Homo sapiens: one gene and its partner. The protein of the gene in region 1 purifies or fractionates together with the protein of each later gene. This does not show direct contact. Each region holds a gene or a part of one and is shown on either strand. Other genes may lie near its edges.

The links.
Region 2: the proteins of MAS1 (region 1) and FLT4 purify together in Homo sapiens (affinity purification with mass spectrometry; 2 studies listed by BioGRID and IntAct, with this or other methods). This does not show direct contact.

The regions. Positions count from the first base shown.
Region 1 is NC_000006.12:159,889,386-159,893,136, reverse strand, and holds the start of MAS1 (proto-oncogene Mas), read right to left. Parts: upstream 2,150-3,751; 5' UTR 2,004-2,149; exon of another isoform or gene 1,954-2,003; intron 1-1,953. UniProt on the Homo sapiens protein: Receptor for angiotensin 1-7. Acts specifically as a functional antagonist of AGTR1 (angiotensin-2 type 1 receptor), although it up-regulates AGTR1 receptor levels.
Region 2 is NC_000005.10:180,639,450-180,643,100, forward strand, and holds part of FLT4 (vascular endothelial growth factor receptor 3 isoform 1 precursor), read right to left. Parts: intron 1-3,651. UniProt on the Homo sapiens protein: Tyrosine-protein kinase that acts as a cell-surface receptor for VEGFC and VEGFD, and plays an essential role in adult lymphangiogenesis and in the development of the vascular network and the cardiovascular system during embryonic development.

The DNA of each region.
Region 1 (3,751 bases):
TGCAAAACTCAAAGAATTGTGGGCAGTATCGCATCTGAATGCAGAAGAGACTTTTGAGAAGAGGGGTTTTGACATTGATCAAAGTACAGTGCAGAGGCCACAGCCTATTCTGCTTGTGCCTACGGCTGCTTGGCCTGGGAGCTGCACTTTCAGTCAAACTGACCATGAGAGGCAAGTCCTCCATCAAGCAGATTAACCCCACTGGGTCTCAACTGCTTCACATGCTGGCATTTTAATGTAGTTTGAAAGGCTGGGGTATAAGAAATGCTAGAGATTGAACAGCACTTTGCCAATATGAGTCTCATGGAAATGCCAAACTGAGATAATGAATCAACAAGCAGGGAAAACAAGCATGGTGGTTTCCATTGATGTGTAAGGATGTGGGCTTTGCAGAGCCTGTGTCCTGCCAGGTCCACCTGAGATTGCTGGCTGCAATTACCTCTCAATGAAAGTGAGAGGAACAGATGGGTGGTGGAGCTGATAGAAAAAACAAGGAGACTCAGAGTCAGCAGAGAGTTCTAAATGCCATACATTTATGCTGCTCAAGTGTTCTCTAGAGACCTCAGAAGCAAACAACCCCTTCCACATTCCCATTCAGTTGAGCACAGTCCTTCCATGGCCCCAGATACCCAGCCTAGGACATCACTCTTAGAAGAAAGAAAGAGGGGGCTGGGGAGAAAGGCAGGGAGAAAAAAGGAAAGAGAGAAAAGCCAATAAAACTCAGGCTGGGGGAGTGGGCCATCTGAAAGCGCCTGTTGTTCCCAGGCAACTTAAAAGACAGCCTGACCCTAGGCTGGATTTCTAGGTGTGCAGATCCAGAGAAAAGGGCAAATTCTTCCCTGTGTGTGTGTGCAGTCACCTGGACAAACAGAAACCCATTTGTGAGATGGAATTTCCATGGCAGGCAAGGGCTCCGATGGGAATGTACAGGGCAGGACCATCTGTCCTGGTATTAAATGCATCATTCCCGTCTTCCCCACACTAGGGCCATCTGTACGCAGAAGCAGAGACTTCTTGCTCCCTTTCCAAACATACCACAGGATCAATTTAGAGCCCTGGTCTAAAAGGGGGGAAGGTGATTTTGTCCCCTAAGGGATGTTTGGCATGCCTGAAGATATTTTTGGTTGTCACAATGGAGAGGAGTGTGCTACTGGTATCTAGTTGGTAGAGGCCAGAGATGCTGCTAAACATCCTATAATATACAAGACAGCCCACACGGCAAAGAATTACCCAGCCCAAAATGCCAGTAGTGCCGAGGCCGTGGCACTCTGCTAGAGGCCAGCTTCTTACCACCTTTTTACTGCTGCACCCATAGCAATCTAACAACACACTATACATTCTCTCACCAAATTACTCCTAAGTATCCTGGCTGGGAAGTGTTGCTAAGACGCTCATACCAAAGATCAAGACTGGGCAGGAGATTCCTTTTAACAGACATCTTGTCACCAAAGGAATGCATACGGCTTCATAAGCAACAGAAGCTAATACTGATGCCAGTGCCCACTAAGGAAAAATGAAGAAAAATCAATACAGCTTGCCCCTGTGATGCCAAAGAGCTGATAGCCAAGTGATTTCTCCAGAGGAATCAAATTCAGTAACAACTCTTTCAAACCTCAACTTCTTTATCATTCATAAGCTTTCATTAAGCAGCCTTGAAAACCTCCAAGTCCACCATTCAAACTGTGAATTGATCCTAAGATTCTTTCCCCTGCAACGAGTTAAAAAAGAAAACGCTACTGCGAAGTTTCAACCCTGAAGTTGAAAAACAATGTCTGGGAACAGTTAACTCAGCAAAGAAGTAAATTTTCCAAAACAAAGGCAGGAGGAAAGAGAAGTTTTTGCCAACACACACCAACGGCAAACATCTAACACACCGAAAAAAATAAAAGAAAGAAAAACCAGCACAGAAAAGAGTTATCCAAGAAATAGCTTTTTAAAGAGAGAAAATCTTACTCTGGTTGTCAAGGACAGCTAAGCAATGAAAAACTGGGACGCAGACTCACTGGTGTCATTTGCTCAGGAAGGGTCAGACGTGGCCAACAGGTTGGCTGCCCCTTCACATCTGGGGCATCAATGCCCAGCCAGCCTGCAGGGTCTCCGGTCCCAACATCTCGAAGGATGGCTGCAGCCTCTCATCTCTGAAGGAATCAGAGCTGCTCTCCCACTGCTGAAAATATTTGAGATGTGCCAAGCAGATGGTCCCACGCTTATCAGCAGAAGCTTCCAATGGCATCATTCAGTGACACACTCAAGTGAAAATCTTCACGCCAATCCAGAGCGGGGTGTGAGCTGGTGATAATGCAAGGCAGTGGATCACCTTGAACCACTAAGGCCAGCCAGGGCTAAAGAGAAAGATGACGTGGAGAAATGCCACATGGAAGGGCAAAACCGCATGTGTAGTAGAAAGACAGAACCATCTCAAATTCCCAGCTCAGTTTCTAATAAGTTATGTGACCTCTGCCAAGCTCTCTAAGACTTGGTTTTCTCATCTGTAAAATGGAGCTAATAATATTAACTCAAAACCTAGTAATGATGAGATGAGTCTATGTATAGACCCAGAGAGACATACGGGAGACACATGGCTAGATAGTTAAGGATTTGTTCCCTTCTCCAACCCAGTTTCGGAGAGTATCATGCTCAGTGTAGTATATAAGACCCGTAGGATGCTATGAAAAGCAAGCAAGCCAAGGAGTGTGTTCAGGGGTGAAGGCAGGGGTCTGCACCATTGGCCATGCCCAGACTGCGTCCCAGCCTGGTCCGGGGGCTCCTCCTGGGAGTAGCTGTTTCTGTTAGATGCCAACTCTCACCCGTGCAGTCAGGAACATGAGAGCAAATTCCTTTTCCCCGATCCCTGTTCTGCATTTTTTGTGTTTTTGTTGTTGTTGTTGTTTGGTTAGGTTTTTTGTTTTTCTACCTTTTAAAAACCAAAAATGGCCAATATGTTACCCATTTTTCAAATAACTCAATGTGAAGCCCCAAAGGCTGAGAATTCTGGATCTCTTGGATCTCAGGTAGCCAAGTCTGAGATCCCAAGCCTGAAGACCCACCCCTCACTCAGGGTAGCATTTTCTCTTGTTTAAAGGGATTCCTTCATAGATATTGTGCCAAAGTATTAAGAACCTCGGGGACCAACTATATCAAAAGGGGTAAGAAGGCAGTTTCAGACTCTGTGGGAAAGCAGACATAGGAACCCACAGATGAAGTTCCCCTCCGACTGTTTTCGTAAGCAGGAAGACCATAGTCCCAGGGCAGAGCCAAACTACTCTTGTGGGAAGCCTGACCAGCAGCTCGGCCCTCCCAGTGGGAAGAAGAAAGGGGAGAGAAGAGAGCTTCCCCTGAAGCCAGCAGGCATCTACTGGGTAGGCAGTGCTGAGCAGCAAATCAACAGACCAGGTGAACTCGGTCTTGAAGTTGGAAAGGTGTTCTCATTACCTGGTTCTGATGCTCCAAGGAAGGAGAAGTTCAGCCTCCTGAAGAACTTTAGTTTCCCAGAGGATGGTCAGAAACTAAAAAGGAAACAGGCACCATCTAAAGCAGACTGCAAGGCAGAAAAGAAGGAGCACGGGTGGGAAAGGATCAGACCCACGGAAGAAAACATGATTAGGGAAAAATAAGAGGCTGCCCAGGAAGCTTCCAATCCCAGCAGGGGAGGAATTGATCCCGAAGGAAATGAGGGATGAAGGAGATGGGATACGACAGAGGGATCCTCTCTGCTCCACATTCGCTGCTTCTCAGATCAGGGGCTGCCCAG
Region 2 (3,651 bases), on another chromosome or scaffold:
GATGGGTAGATTGAACAGAAGGATGGATGGACGGGCAGATGGAAGGATGAACGAATGGCTGGATGGAAGGATGAATGGATGGTGGAAAGGTGGGCATATGGGTGAAGCATGGATGGGTGGATGGTTAGATGGTTGGATGGATGGAAAGTAGATGGATGGATGGCTCAACAGACCTCTGAAACCTCAGAGACTCTTGTCAGACCCTGTTGTTCCACTGGAAAAGATGCTTCCTGTTTTATAGGATGGGCTCCCTGGGCAGATTCAGGCCTGCAGCCTGCCACGTCCAGAGGCTCTGTGACTGCCCAGCCCCCACCTGCAGCCCTGAAGAAGGCGCATCCTTCCTGCCTGGCTGTTGTCTGTCTCTGCTGTCCTTCCCTTCCCGCAGCAGGAAGCACTGTCATCCTGGCCTCTGCTGCGCTCCCCCTGCCTTCCTGTTCCTGGCCCGGGAACTGGCTTCTTCCTTCCCTGAGGCCCCGCAAAGCCCTGGCTCCCAAGCCTGCAGCAGCGTGGTTGGGGCAGGCACCGGGTGGAGGTCAGAAAGGCCAGAATGCATACCTCCTCTTCTCTGTACTGTCAGCAGCCCCAGGACACCCTCCGTCCTCGGGCCACGGGGCCTTGGCGTCAGCCACAGGCGTGGCGGGCGTGGGAGCAGCACAGGAGGGTCCTGCACCTCCCCTGGGCAGTGCTGGCACCCCTCCATGAGGGCCAGGCAGGGTGGGGGAACGTCCCATGGGTTAGGCACTAGCAGCGAGCGAGGTGGGGGGCAGCCGGCCGGCTGCGACTGCCTCATTTGATCCTCACAGCAGCCTGGGAGGGAGGGCTCAACAGCCAGGTCAGCGAGTGAGGAAACTGAGGCGCCAGGCCTCACAGCAGCAGGTGGCCACGTGGGAGCCCAGTCTGGCTGAGTCCAGGTCGGTCCCTGCCCCAGGACCAGGCTCCCCTCCAAAGGCCGGGGGCAGAGGCTCAGGCCAGACCCCAGCCCGGCCTTCCTCCTAGCCCCTAGCATGAAGCCTCAGAGACCCCTGCAGGCAGGAAGGCCCACGTAGGAGGCACATGGCTGCCTGGGCCCTGTGCCCCAGTGGCCTCCACCACACCCCTCCTTGGGGCCTGGCCTCCATCTGGCTTCATGCCCTAGTTGGCTGAGGGCAAAGCCCTTTAAGCTAATGATGCCGTTTTTTTCAAAAGCTTCTTTCCTGAAAACGGAGGGAAAACCCAGCCCAGCCCAGTGAGAGCTGCTGGGAGAGCCAGCCTTGCTTTCCTCCCATGATGTGGGAGTCGGCCCCTCCCTCGGCTCCACACCTGCGTGTCCTGCGTCCCTTGTTCTGTACAGAACCCATATTTTCTCATCAAATCCTCTCTGGGCCCACCAGGATGGGACTGAGATGGGCTGGCTGTGCCATACCCTGGTGGGACAGGGTCCCGGCCCTCTCTACGGGGCAGTGTGGGTGAGCGCTGGCCTTAGCTGGTTTCTGGGAGCTGCTCTCCGAATGATGGCTGAGTCCACAGGGCATGGCTGGGTCCAGGTCCTGGTGCAGAGGTGAAGGGGCCGGCATGAGAGATTGAGGGTAGAACTAGCTGCATCCTCGCAGCCCTGCCCTCGCCTTGCCATCTCTCTCAACCATCACCCTGAGCACCAGCCTCCCAGGCCCCTGCTCTCCAGCAGGCTCCTCCCTGCCCGGTTGGGCTGTGTCCTCTGTCCTCCCTCGTCCTCTGTGCCCGGCAAACTGCTGCCCCCAGCTGAGCATGTCATCCCCACTCTGGCCTTGACCCACAGCACGTGGAGGGTCCGAGTCATCAAGCGGCTCCTGGGCCGGGGTGTCATCAGCCCATGGCTCTGTCCCCAGGCCCAACACAGCCGGCACAGGGATGGCACTGGGATTATCCATCAGCTTGGGGCCCCTCCACATTGGCAGAGAGCATGGCCCTGCGGTGGCCACCCTGGGCCTGGCCCTACTTCTCCCTCTCCCTGGGGTGCTTGGGAAGACGGGGACTGTGTGGCAGGCCTGCCAGCTGGACACACACTTTCTGGGCAGCTGAGCCCAGGAGGACAAAGGCAGCCAGAAGCCAGGCTGCAGACTGGAGGGAGCTGGCGGGGAGCAACGGAGCTGCTGGCTGAGCTGGGGTTGGGCAGAGGGGGTCACCTGCACCCTCTCTTCACTCCTGGGGCCAGGCCTCTGCAGGGACCTGGGGGGAGGCAGCAGGAGCGTCCTGTCTGGTGGCCCCTGCTAACCTGGCCAGCAGCCCCTGTGCCTTCAGAGCTTAAGGGGCTGTCGGTCCTCACTGCACATCCTGCAGGTCTGAGAGAGCTGAGCCCGCATGCCCGGCTGGGCACCCCGCACTGCCGCTCTTTGCTGTATGGTCTTGGGCAAATCACTTCCTCTCTCCAAGCCCCAGTCTTCCCACTTGTGAGATGTGGATTGGCCCTAGGATGACTGGGAACTACAGACCACAAACAACATGGTTAAGAATAAACTGTCGGCTGGGCACAGTGGCTCACGCCTGTAATCACAGCACTTTGGGAGGCCAAGGTGGGCGGATCAGGAGGTCAAGAGATTGAGACCATCCTGGCCAACATGGTGAAACCCCATCTCTACTAAAAATACAAAAATTAGCCCAGTGTGGTGGCGGGCGCCTGCAGTCCCAGCTACTCGAGAGGCTGAGGCAGGAGAATGGCGTGAACCTGAGAGGCAGAGCTTGCAGTGGGCCGAGATCGCGCCACTGCACTCCAGCTTGGGCGACAGAGTGAGACTCTGTGTGAAAAAAAAAAAAAAAAGAATAAGCTGTCTCTGGCTCATGCACACGGATCCCTCTGCTCTCACCTGCCTCCTGAATGCTTGGTTTGCTACAGCTGCTGTATCACTGTGACCCTGTGTTGTCGTCAGAGCATGGGGGCCTCGCTGGTGGGAGAGGATTCATGTGAGCTGAAAGGGGCATTGTAGACTGATTAGGAGCTTGCTGGCCCAGGAGGCGGGCACACAGGCCAGAGTGCCGGTGACTTTGGGCCCTCAAGTAGATGGAGCAGATGGAGCATGGTAAAGGTGATGAGGCCGTGGAAGCAGGCCCAGGTCCCCAGCCGGCCTCGGGCCCTGTCCTGCTCGCTGGATGTACTCTCTCTCTCGATGGTGGCACACCGGGGGGCTTCAACCCCACTCTGTGCTCTCACCCTCCCTGACAGCTCTCCTGGGCTCCAGTCCTGGAGGACCCCAGACCTCGAGCCCAGCCCACATCCAACACTGGGTAGGATGACTGGAAGCACGGAGCTCACAACTGTGCACCCGCCAGAGGAGCAAGTACCACAAAGAATGAGAATTCCCAGCGCTGGAGAGAATGTGGAGAAGGAGGCACCCACACAGTAATGATAAACAGCATCCATACACCGATGGCAAATTCTCCAAATTCTCCTTTCCCAAGACCTCCTGCTGCAACAGCAGCAAGCGTGCACCGAGCACTGTCCATGTGAAGCACAGCCCTACGCATGTGTGCATTCCACATGCCTTCACACCCCTGCGGTTGCCTCCGTATTGCCACTGTACAGATAGAAAGCTAGCACACAGAGGTTAACGCATTCCAAAACACATGACCGTTAAGATATTGTCTTGGGAAGACAGGATTAAGGGAAGCTACTATTCATTCTACAGATGTCTGTATAAT